3 linked regions of the Homo sapiens genome follow. The protein of the gene in region 3 interacts with the protein of the main gene of each other region in a biochemical or structural test. Each region holds a gene or a part of one and is shown on either strand. Other genes may lie near its edges. The genes, in order: DLG2, CARD11 and ABCA2.

Evidence for each region.
Region 1: the proteins of ABCA2 (region 3) and DLG2 interact in a test that uses a peptide from one of them, tested with the Homo sapiens proteins (one large-scale study listed by IntAct).
Region 2: the proteins of ABCA2 (region 3) and CARD11 interact in a test that uses a peptide from one of them, tested with the Homo sapiens proteins (one large-scale study listed by IntAct).

The regions. Positions count from the first base shown.
Region 1 is NC_000011.10:83,464,828-83,468,477, reverse strand, and holds part of DLG2 (disks large homolog 2), read left to right. Parts: intron 1-1,660; coding exon 1,661-1,770; intron 1,771-3,650. UniProt on the Homo sapiens protein: Required for perception of chronic pain through NMDA receptor signaling. Regulates surface expression of NMDA receptors in dorsal horn neurons of the spinal cord.
Region 2 is NC_000007.14:2,942,817-2,946,466, reverse strand, and holds part of CARD11 (caspase recruitment domain-containing protein 11), read left to right. Parts: intron 1-510; coding exon 511-648; intron 649-1,929; coding exon 1,930-2,255; exon of another isoform or gene 2,256-2,432; intron 2,433-3,650. UniProt on the Homo sapiens protein: Adapter protein that plays a key role in adaptive immune response by transducing the activation of NF-kappa-B downstream of T-cell receptor (TCR) and B-cell receptor (BCR) engagement.
Region 3 is NC_000009.12:137,011,123-137,014,772, reverse strand, and holds part of ABCA2 (ATP-binding cassette sub-family A member 2), read left to right. Parts: coding exon 1-83; intron 84-368; coding exon 369-605; intron 606-734; coding exon 735-941; intron 942-1,209; coding exon 1,210-1,312; intron 1,313-1,454; coding exon 1,455-1,771; intron 1,772-1,847; coding exon 1,848-2,061; intron 2,062-2,182; coding exon 2,183-2,288; intron 2,289-2,396; coding exon 2,397-2,508; intron 2,509-2,610; coding exon 2,611-2,671; intron 2,672-2,754; coding exon 2,755-2,929; intron 2,930-3,023; coding exon 3,024-3,139; intron 3,140-3,218; coding exon 3,219-3,366; intron 3,367-3,463; coding exon 3,464-3,587; intron 3,588-3,650. UniProt on the Homo sapiens protein: Probable lipid transporter that modulates cholesterol sequestration in the late endosome/lysosome by regulating the intracellular sphingolipid metabolism, in turn participates in cholesterol homeostasis.

The sequences.
Region 1 (3,650 bases), on a different chromosome or scaffold from region 3:
TTCCTCCCTCTCAAAAGTTCAGTTCTATCAACTAAATGAATACTGGTTCTAGTCAAACTGTCCTGGATAATTGCACCTATTTTCCTCTTTGTTCATGTTGTTAACTTGAAATGTTCTGACTGGTGAATAATCAACCAGCATTTATACATGTTATGTGGCTGCTGCACTTCACAGATAGAAAACTTGAAATCTATTACCTAAGTAATAACGGCTTGAACCATCTTAGTGGGTTTCTCAGATAAGAAGACTTCAAGTATTCACTGGACTGTATTCATTTTCATGTGAACATTATAGATGAGATTTTAGCCCTTATTATTGATTTAGTATTGTTCCTATCTGCATAAAGTGCCTTTTTTCTCTTCTTGCATAAAGTTATTCTAGCCTCAGGGTAATGAGGACATTTCTCTCCAGGAGGTAGAATATGATGTGGCAAATGTATCTGCATATCCAGAAATGCTTTATAAAGCAGCTGCTTGCTCTGAGCACTCATTGTGGTGGAAGCCAAGTTAAATGAGGTGTGCTATAATGTAATAGCATTTTTATTTGTTAACAAACAAGAAATTTACATACCTCATGCAAGCCTTTCTCTCTTGGCATTTAACCCGCATTTAATTTATATATATATATATATATATGTTTTAATTATATATTTTATATGTGTGTGTGTATATATATATATATATATATATATATATATATATATATACATATAGTTTTTATTTTTTTTGAGATGGCATTTCACTCTTATTGCCCAGGCTGGAATGCCATGGCACGGTCTCAGCTCACTGCAACCTCCACCTCCTGGGTTCAAGTGATTCTCCTGCCTCAGCCTCTCAAGTAGCTGGGATTACAGGTGCCCACCACCATGCCTGGTGAACTTTTTGGATTTTTAGCAGAGACAGGGTCTCACCATTTTGGTCAGGCTGGTCTCGAACTCCTGATCTCAGGTGATCCACCCGCCTCGGCCTCCTAGAGTGCTAGGATTACAGCCATGAGCCACTGCACCCAACCAACCATATGTTTAAGTTAACCATTTTTGTGTCTGCCCTCCACTAGACTGAGTACCTTGCAGACAGGATATGTACAAGTACTTGGAAAAATTCACATTATTCTCAATCTTCCACACCGAATGTTGGGCAGGGTGAGACAATGAGGTGTCTATTTTTTCCAACCAACAATTCTGTTAGTGCTCCAGACTTGGGTTTGCATGCTCCTAGCACTAAACTATTGGGCAAGTTAGTTAGTGTGAGTCTTCTGTAAAATGCAGCTGATAATACCTACCTCAGAGATTTGGGAATTTCTTCTGACAATTGTGTTCAGAGATGGTTTTTAAACTTCATGAGAACAGACTCAGTCACATAACATACGGCTGCATGTCATCTTTGTGTGTTACATCAGGTATTTAACTGAGAGAACATATGTAAAATGTCCAGTCCAGTAGCAGACACTTTGTAAGGGGCTAGTTAGTATTAGTTATTGTAAACACTCAATGATGACCCTATATATCGATTTTTATTTACTCTTTGCAGTGATCTTTTTCTGACTTTAGAAATCCAGCATCCCCTACCTTCCTCTAAAACCTACATACATTAGTTTCCTTTTGTTGGATTATGGCCATGCTTCCTATATTAACTTCATATTTTTCTTCTCTTTCTACCAGGGCAAACACTGTATACTTGATGTATCAGGAAATGCTATCAAGCGGTTACAAGTTGCCCAGCTCTATCCCATTGCCATCTTCATAAAACCCAGGTCTCTGGAACCTCTTATGTGAGTAGAGGGCATTGGAGGCCTTCATCCAACTGACTCCCTGTTCTGTATTATACTGAAAATTACTAACAGGATTTTGCTGGGAATGCTTACAAATGGGAAATGCCATTGTTGATTTTTCAGCATTCTCTTTTTTTGAAGATATATCAAAGTTCTTTTAAACAACTAGAAACATAATGTCAGTGATTTCTTTTTTTAACATCCCTCATTTTAACAATAATAGTAATTCCTTAAAACATCTTCAATAATGTTTCCTGATTTTTATTGTTTTACTTCACGGATTGTTTTCTTTGTTAGTTTTTGAGGTTTTGTTGTTGTTGTTTTGAGGATAGCTTGGCTTGATTTGGTTTTTTGGTTTGCTTTTGTTTTCCAAATGATAGGAAGCAATCATTTTTTAATTGTCTCATACTTCTGAGGCAGGTCTATAAGTAAATCTTTTTAAATGTGTAGATTTTTTATAGAGAGAGCAGACAACGTTTGAGACTTTTTTCATTGGCATTTTCCTTGGTTCTCTAATAGAATTCTGATGTTCCTTAATTAAAACTTTACATACATAGAACATCGTTCTTAATAGAGTTTTCTTAGTGGCGTGGCAGTAAAACATCTGTAACTTAAACCAGTAGCTTCATACCTGTGCACTCAGGGTTTTTTCTTTTTTTTTCCCCTCCAAAGGACTTGTGAAATAACTTCTTTCAAGAATCATTAAACAAAGTGGGCAGACATTCACGATCTGACTGTAAAGTCAGTATAGGCAACTCCCATTCACAAAGGTGAAGCTACAGTAGATAGAGGTAACCAGAAAAGGGGCTACCAGCAGGGACCTGAAAATTGATCAGGCAAGATTTGGTTCTTTACTTTGCCACTGATCAGTTAAGTAACCTTGGGCAAATTGCTTGACCTTTCTAAGATTTAGCTCCTCACCTCGAAACGAGGCATACTAATAAATACCTCATAGAGCTAGTATAAAGGTTAAATAACAAGATTAGGAATTTAGTAAAGCTGTTCATGTACTCTTTGGCATATGGTAAGTACTCAATAAATAATACCTATTATTATTGTAAAAGATATAAAATTACTTCATTATAAAGGAATAAAACTATTTTATCATTATAAAACACATAAACAGTACCTCTTCCATGACAGTGCAAGAGATAATGCCAATGTGTCTGTCATGAGGGCCTTGATCAAATTTTGCCTTCATCTGGGCCTCAAGACCATAGTGTTTGACAGGGTTCAGGAGTGAACCACAGAGTACTGGAAAATAATGTTTATGGAAGGACCGAAGAAACAGAAATTATTTAATCCCAGTGGTGAAAGCAATTGCTTACAGAGGATATTAACTGTTCTGTGTCTCCTCTGAAGACAAAGAAGCAAAGCAAACTGCAGCAGCTGGAGTGGCAGCCTGAGAGAATTAAGTTAAATACATAGTTGAGCTCTGGGGAAATAGCCAGAGATGTACCTTGAAAGCAGAATATAGTCCCATATATAAAAAATGGACAAGGATTCTTACCAGGATAAAAAAAGTAAGATCGGGAGGTCACTGACAGTACCTTCAGCCCCATGAATTTAGGTATTAAATTATAATATAAAGAGTTTTTCCCATGGCTGGCACATGGAAAAATATGTACTAATGATAAAATAATGATTCTTAATATTATCATCCCCAATAGCATGTATTAAATTTCTCCTTGTATAGGATACTATGTCGGGCATTGCACAAAGTGAATTAAGCAAGTACAAATTTCATGATGTAAAATTGATTTATAATCTGTCAAGAGCCTCATAAATATAAGTAATGCTAACATTAATGAGAAGAAAAATAGTCCTTACTTCCTGGGAACAGCCATCTTAAAGGCCTGTTTCAGAAATAGAAAAATAAA
Region 2 (3,650 bases), on a different chromosome or scaffold from region 3:
GACCTGCTGGGGAAATTACATTTAAGGTGTTTCCAGGTTGTGTAATAATCCCAAAGAAAAACCTAGAACTATCCCTACTTCCTATGATTTTTCCTAGCCTCTCACCCAAAGATTTGTCTTCCTGCTCTCAATCCCAGAGAACCATATATTATTCCATAATTTTTATCGTGCTTCCAACCTCCTTCAGTCATAGAAGACCTGGTGCCTACGTGGTTCATTTTGGCCCTGGTCAGTTGGGAAACTCTTCAAAACTGGGGCGGCAATTCCATTTATCCTGGTTCTACCAGTTTATTAGAAACAGAAAACTAACGCTCACCAAATCCCTGCGGAGGGCCTGGCACCTTGATTTACGTCATCTGGGCTCCAAGATACAACTCAGAAGTGATAGAATGTGGGGAGACTGTCTTCTTAGAGTTGATTGAAGGACACAAGTCCAGGATGAGACCAGCCACAGAGACTTGCGTTCCATCAGATATGTATTCTCACAGAGTGATCTGGTCTTTCCCCTAGGCCGGCTGTTGGACATTCTACATACCAAGGGGCAAAGGGGCTATGTGGTCTTCTTGGAGAGCCTAGAATTTTATTACCCAGAACTGTACAAACTGGTGACTGGGAAAGAGCCCACTCGGAGATTCTCCACCATTGTGGGTAAGTGCTTTTGCCATTGGGAACATCTGGACTCTAAGAGGAGGGGCGTGTGTGTGTGTGTGTCTGTGTGTGTGTGTGTGTGTGTGTGTGTCCTCAGTAGTGGCATGGTTCTTAAGCTGTGAATCTATGACATATAGAACTGGGGTCTGTCAACCACTTATTTTGCTTGATGATGAAAGGTTAACAGGGGCAAAGGGAAGCAGGAACCAAGAGAAGTGGGTGTTCACGGACCATCCCCCATGAATGGCGCCAGGTGGAACACAAGTTCATTCTACCCCGTAGATCTTGTCCTTGCCTTGCCTGCATTCTTTCTAGTGTCTCATGGGCCAGAGCCCTTGAGCATCTTGCCTTCTTAATCTTCCTTTCTAAACATTCTTGAATCAGTCTTCTCGCCCGCCCCAACACTTCCCACAGTCCAGACTCCCACAACCCCATTAACTCTCCATATCCATTCCCGATCTGTTCCAGTGCTTTCTCCATTCTTCCTCCCCTATTTAAAACCCTTTGGTGGTTTTTCATTGCTTCTTTGTAAAGACCCAGGTCTTGGCCAGGCACAGTGGCTCATGCCTGAAATTCCAACACTTTTGGAGGCTGCAGCCATAGAATTGCTTGAGCCCAGGAGTTCCAGGCTGCAATAAGCTATGATCATGCCCCTGCACTCCAGCCTGGGTAATAGAGCGAGACCCTGTTTTAAAATATAAAAAAAGTCCCAGGTCTTTAATGCAGCCCACAAGGACCCTTCATGATCCAGTCCCTGCTGACACCACCAGCCTCGCCTTTCTCTTCTCTCTCTCTCCTTCGGCCACTTTGGTCTTCGTTCAGTTCCTGAAATATGCCAAGTTCCTCCCTCCTCCCCATATGGCCTTGGCAATGTTGTTCCCCTTTCCTAGAATGCCTTTTCCCACCCGAACTTAACATTTTACCTCAACCATCAGGAGCCTTCTCCAACCCCCTCTGCCCACAAGGCTGGATCTGGGCCCCTGCTACACACTCTCATAGCCCCATCTACCTTTACTTTGTGAAATCCTCACGGTCTGTAATTCTATTTGTGGTATCATTTGATTTTTTTAAATGTGTTTCTCTTATTACACCCTAAGCTCTCCCGGGGCCAAGGCTGTGAGTCTCGCTCACTCTGAATCCCCAGTGCCTCGTGGGCAGAGTGAGTAAAGAGCTTGGCACAACGTTGGTGAGTGAGTGAATGAATGGCACCTGCCCTGCGTCTGGAACCTCCTTTTTCCACTTCCCAGTCCTCAGGCCTGACTGGGTGCCCCCTCTCCACAGTGGAGGAAGGCCACGAGGGCCTCACGCACTTCCTGATGAACGAGGTCATCAAGCTGCAGCAGCAGATGAAGGCCAAGGACCTGCAACGCTGCGAGCTGCTGGCCAGGTTGCGGCAGCTGGAGGATGAGAAGAAGCAGATGACGCTGACGCGCGTGGAGCTGCTAACCTTCCAGGAGCGGTACTACAAGATGAAGGAAGAGCGGGACAGCTACAATGACGAGCTGGTCAAGGTGAAGGACGACAACTACAACTTAGCCATGCGCTACGCACAGCTCAGTGAGGAGAAGAACATGGCGGTCATGAGGAGCCGAGACCTCCAACTCGAGGTGAGGGGTGCCCAAGGGCTACTCCGCCAGGGTGACCCGGGGGAAACAAATGTCACCAGGGCTCAATTCTCCCATAAAGCAGGTGCAGGCACATGCACGTGGTCTGCCGGAGCTTCCTGCCAGCCAGGTGTGGGGGAATGGAGGACACAGGGCCTCTGGGAGTTCTAGGTCCACTATGCACCTGCACGTGTACCCATAGTGCTTAGCGCTACCGGGTAAGCGGCCTACATCCCCTGTGCGCATGGGCAGACATGCGCACAAGGACCGACCCAGTGCGCAGCTTTCCACCACCGGCTCAGTCCCAGATCCACCTTGCACATGCGCATGCAGACCCAGAATGGCTCACTCCGCAAATGAATTAAGGAGATTTACATCTTCTTTTTTCTTTTCTTTTATTTTCCTTTCCTTCTTTTCTTTCTTTCTTTTTCTTTTCTTTTTTTTTTTTTTTTTTTTTTTTTTTTTTGAGACAGGGTCTTCCACTGCCCAGGCTGCAGTGGTGTGATCATGGCTCACTGAAGCCTTGACCTCCTAGACTCAAGTGATCCTCCTGTCTCAGCCTCCAAAGTAGCTGGGACTACAGGTGCCCACCATCACGCCAGGCTATTCTTTCAATTTTTTTGTAGAAAAGGGGTCTCGCTATTTTGCCCAGGCTGATCTGCAACTCCTGGGCTCAAGTGATCTGCCTCCCTTGGCCTTACAAAGTGGTGGGATTACAGGTATGAGCCACTGCACCCGGCCTCGTTCATTCTTTCTGTTTATTGAGTTCCATCGGGTACCAGGCTTTTTGTTTTTGGGTTTTTTGGAGGAGTTTTTTGGACAGAGTCTCACTCTGTCACCCAGGCTGGAGTGCAGTGGTGTGATCACAGCTCACTGTAGCTTTGGCCTTGCAGGCTCAGGTGATCCTCCCACCTTAGCCTCCCAAGTAGCTGGGACTACAGGTACATGCTATGCCAGCTAATTTTTTTCTATTTTTATCCTACCCACCCCCCTTTTTCTATTTTTAGTAAAGACAGGGTTTCACCATGTTGCCCAGGCTGGTCTTGAACTCCTGGGCTCGGGCAATCTGCACACTTGGCCTCCCAAAGTGCTGGGATTACAGGTATAAGCCACCACACCTGGCCCCCAGGCTCTTTTCCAGGGATACATAGCTGAAGACTAAAACCCTTCTGTCGTGGAACTAACATTGTAATCAGAAAACAAATGCATAGATACTTGGTAGAAATGAGTGCTATCAAGAAGAGAAGACAGGGCGTGAGGACAGAACATGAGGATTGCTACTTTAACTAGGGTGTCCAGGAAAGGTCTCTGAGAAGGAGACACATGAAGAGAGATCTGAAGGGATGAAAGGAGCCAACCATGCAAGTCTCAGGGGAAAGCACTCGCAAAGCCCATAAG
Region 3 (3,650 bases):
CTTCGGGCTGATGGACACGACCCTGGAGGAAGTGTTCCTCAAGGTGTCGGAGGAGGATCAGTCGCTGGAGAACAGTGAGGCCGGTGAGGGGCCTGGACCACTTGCTCAGCCCACCCCACCCACAAGGCCCCAGCTCGGGCCTGCGCTGTCACTCCTGCCTGGTGTCTGGGGGCGCCACCCTGGTCCTGGGTGGAAGCCAGGGGACGCCCCGGGGTTAGCCTGCGGTCCTAGGTGGGTGGTCCTGGTGGCCAGAGGTCCCGGACAGGTGTATGAGCCTGGGAACTGGGGTCAAGACCGGGGATGGGGGTCCTGGGCAGGCCTAGGGGCCAGTAGCCCTGAGTGTCCCCTCGGCCCTTCCACTGCGGCAGATGTGAAGGAGTCCAGGAAGGATGTGCTCCCTGGGGCGGAGGGCCCGGCGTCTGGGGAGGGTCACGCTGGCAATCTGGCCCGGTGCTCGGAGCTGACCCAGTCGCAGGCATCGCTGCAGTCGGCGTCATCTGTGGGCTCTGCCCGTGGCGACGAGGGAGCTGGCTACACCGACGTCTATGGCGACTACCGCCCCCTCTTTGATAACCCACAGGACCCAGACAATGTCAGCCTGCAAGGTGGGGGTGGCAGGGTGAGGCTGGGACAGCAAGGGAGGGGGAGCAGGGTTGCGGGGGAGCGGCATGAGGGCAGCCAGTAGGGAGAGGGTAGCGTGCAACCACCTGCTCAGCCTCTACCTCTCTGCACAGAGGTGGAGGCAGAGGCCCTGTCGAGGGTCGGCCAGGGCAGCCGCAAGCTGGACGGCGGGTGGCTGAAGGTGCGCCAGTTCCACGGGCTGCTGGTCAAACGCTTCCACTGCGCCCGCCGCAACTCCAAGGCACTCTTCTCCCAGATCTTGCTGCCAGCCTTCTTCGTCTGCGTGGCCATGACCGTGGCCCTGTCCGTCCCGGAGATTGGTAGGCCACCGGCTGGACAGGGGTGCTGGGCTTGCCTCCCCCCACCGCCCGCTGGGAGCCCTGATGATGCCCACTCCTGAGCTTCCTGACTCTGGGCCTCACCCCACACCTGAGGCTGGGCACGCACCGGGGTTCATCCGGGAGTCCTGTCTCCTCGGGTCCCAGACCCCAGGCGTGGATCCCTTGGGGTTGGGGGAAGGGGACCGAGGCTTGGGGGCCGCTGGCCAGAGGGCAGAACCTGCTCAGGCCTCCCTGCTCGCCCTGCCAGGTGATCTGCCCCCGCTGGTCCTGTCACCTTCCCAGTACCACAACTACACCCAGCCCCGTGGCAATTTCATCCCCTACGCCAACGAGGAGCGCCGCGAGTACCGGTGAGGCCTCCAGCGGGGGCAGCCTTGGTGGGTGGGGCGAGTGAAGGGGCGGGGACAGCCTTGGTGGGCCAGGCGGGCGAGGGGGCGGGGCTGGCGAGGGGCGGAGACTGGCAGCCCCACCTCACACTGTCGGTGCCCGCAGGCTGCGGCTATCGCCCGACGCCAGCCCCCAGCAGCTCGTGAGCACGTTCCGGCTGCCGTCGGGGGTGGGTGCCACCTGCGTGCTCAAGTCTCCCGCCAACGGCTCGCTGGGGCCCACGTTGAACCTGAGCAGCGGGGAGTCGCGCCTGCTGGCGGCTCGGTTCTTCGACAGCATGTGTCTGGAGTCCTTCACACAGGGGCTGCCACTGTCCAATTTCGTGCCACCCCCACCCTCGCCCGCCCCATCTGACTCGCCAGCGTCCCCGGATGAGGACCTGCAGGCCTGGAACGTCTCCCTGCCGCCCACCGCTGGGCCAGGTAGTGGTTCAGGGGGCCTGCTGGGGGGGCAGGGGCAGTGAGGGGTCCTTCTCACCGCACCATGCTGTGCCCACAGAAATGTGGACGTCGGCACCCTCCCTGCCGCGCCTGGTACGGGAGCCCGTCCGCTGCACCTGCTCTGCGCAGGGCACCGGCTTCTCCTGCCCCAGCAGTGTGGGCGGGCACCCGCCCCAGATGCGGGTGGTCACAGGCGACATCCTGACCGACATCACCGGCCACAATGTCTCTGAGTACCTGCTCTTCACCTCCGACCGCTTCCGACTGCACCGGTGAGCTGGGTGGGGAGGCTGTGGGTGAGGGTGGCCGGCCACCAGCCACCTAGTCTCAACTCCTGCCCCTCTAGCCTCACTGCCTGCCTAGCCTCACCGCCCCTCCCACCTGCCTGCCCAGGTATGGGGCCATCACCTTTGGAAACGTCCTGAAGTCCATCCCAGCCTCATTTGGCACCAGGGCCCCACCCATGGTGCGGAAGATCGCGGTGCGCAGGGCTGCCCAGGTGAGCGAGGCTGCGGGCCTGGGCCCCGCTGTGTGTAGCGCCGCCCGAGGTCTGCAGGGACCCAGGTCTGAGGTCCTGGGGCCTTTCTGTGTCCTCTTCCTTCTGCAGGTTTTCTACAACAACAAGGGCTATCACAGCATGCCCACCTACCTCAACAGCCTCAACAACGCCATCCTGCGTGCCAACCTGCCCAAGAGCAAGGGCAACCCGGCGGCTTACGGTGAGCTGACATAGGCAGGGCGGGGCGGGGCGGGGAGGAGCTGGGGCCGGGGCGGGGAGGAGCTGGGGCCTGAAGCTGCCGCCCCCGCCCCGCCGTGTGCAGGCATCACCGTCACCAACCACCCCATGAATAAGACCAGCGCCAGCCTCTCCCTGGATTACCTGTAAGTGTGGCCAGTGGGGGATGAGGTGGGGCAGGTGGGCACTGCAGCCCCGGCCGTGAGGACTGAGGGCTTCCTTGCCCCAGGCTGCAGGGCACGGATGTCGTCATCGCCATCTTCATCATCGTGGCCATGTCCTTCGTGCCGGCCAGCTTCGTTGTCTTCCTCGTGGCCGAGAAGTCCACCAAGGCCAAGCACCTGCAGTTTGTCAGCGGCTGCAACCCCATCATCTACTGGCTGGCGAACTACGTGTGGGACATGGTGCGCCCGGCGTGGCCATGGGGTGCCCCGGCCCTTCTCATCCCCCATCCCCGCCCTGCCCCGGGTCTCTCACCAGCCGCCCCCACCCCTGCAGCTCAACTACCTGGTCCCCGCTACCTGCTGTGTCATCATCCTGTTTGTGTTCGACCTGCCGGCCTACACGTCGCCCACCAACTTCCCTGCCGTCCTCTCCCTCTTCCTGCTCTATGGGTAAGCGGAAGCGGAGGGGGGAGCGGCCTCAGGTGGGACCGGGGCTGCCTGGTGACCACTGCCCGCCACCTGCCCGCAGGTGGTCCATCACGCCCATCATGTACCCGGCCTCCTTCTGGTTCGAGGTCCCCAGCTCCGCCTACGTGTTCCTCATTGTCATCAATCTCTTCATCGGCATCACCGCCACCGTGGCCACCTTCCTGCTACAGCTCTTCGAGCACGACAAGGTGGGGCGGTGACGACATGGTGGGGGTGGCGGACCCTGCGGAGGCTGTGCCCCTCACCCCGGCCACCCCTGTGCCCCTGACCCCGGCCACCCCGCAGGACCTGAAGGTTGTCAACAGTTACCTGAAAAGCTGCTTCCTCATTTTCCCCAACTACAACCTGGGCCACGGGCTCATGGAGATGGCCTACAACGAGTACATCAACGAGTACTACGCCAAGATTGGTGAGGGGGCCCGTGGGGCGGGGAAGGCGGTGGGGGCCCCGCAAGGCCCAGAGCACAGGCCCT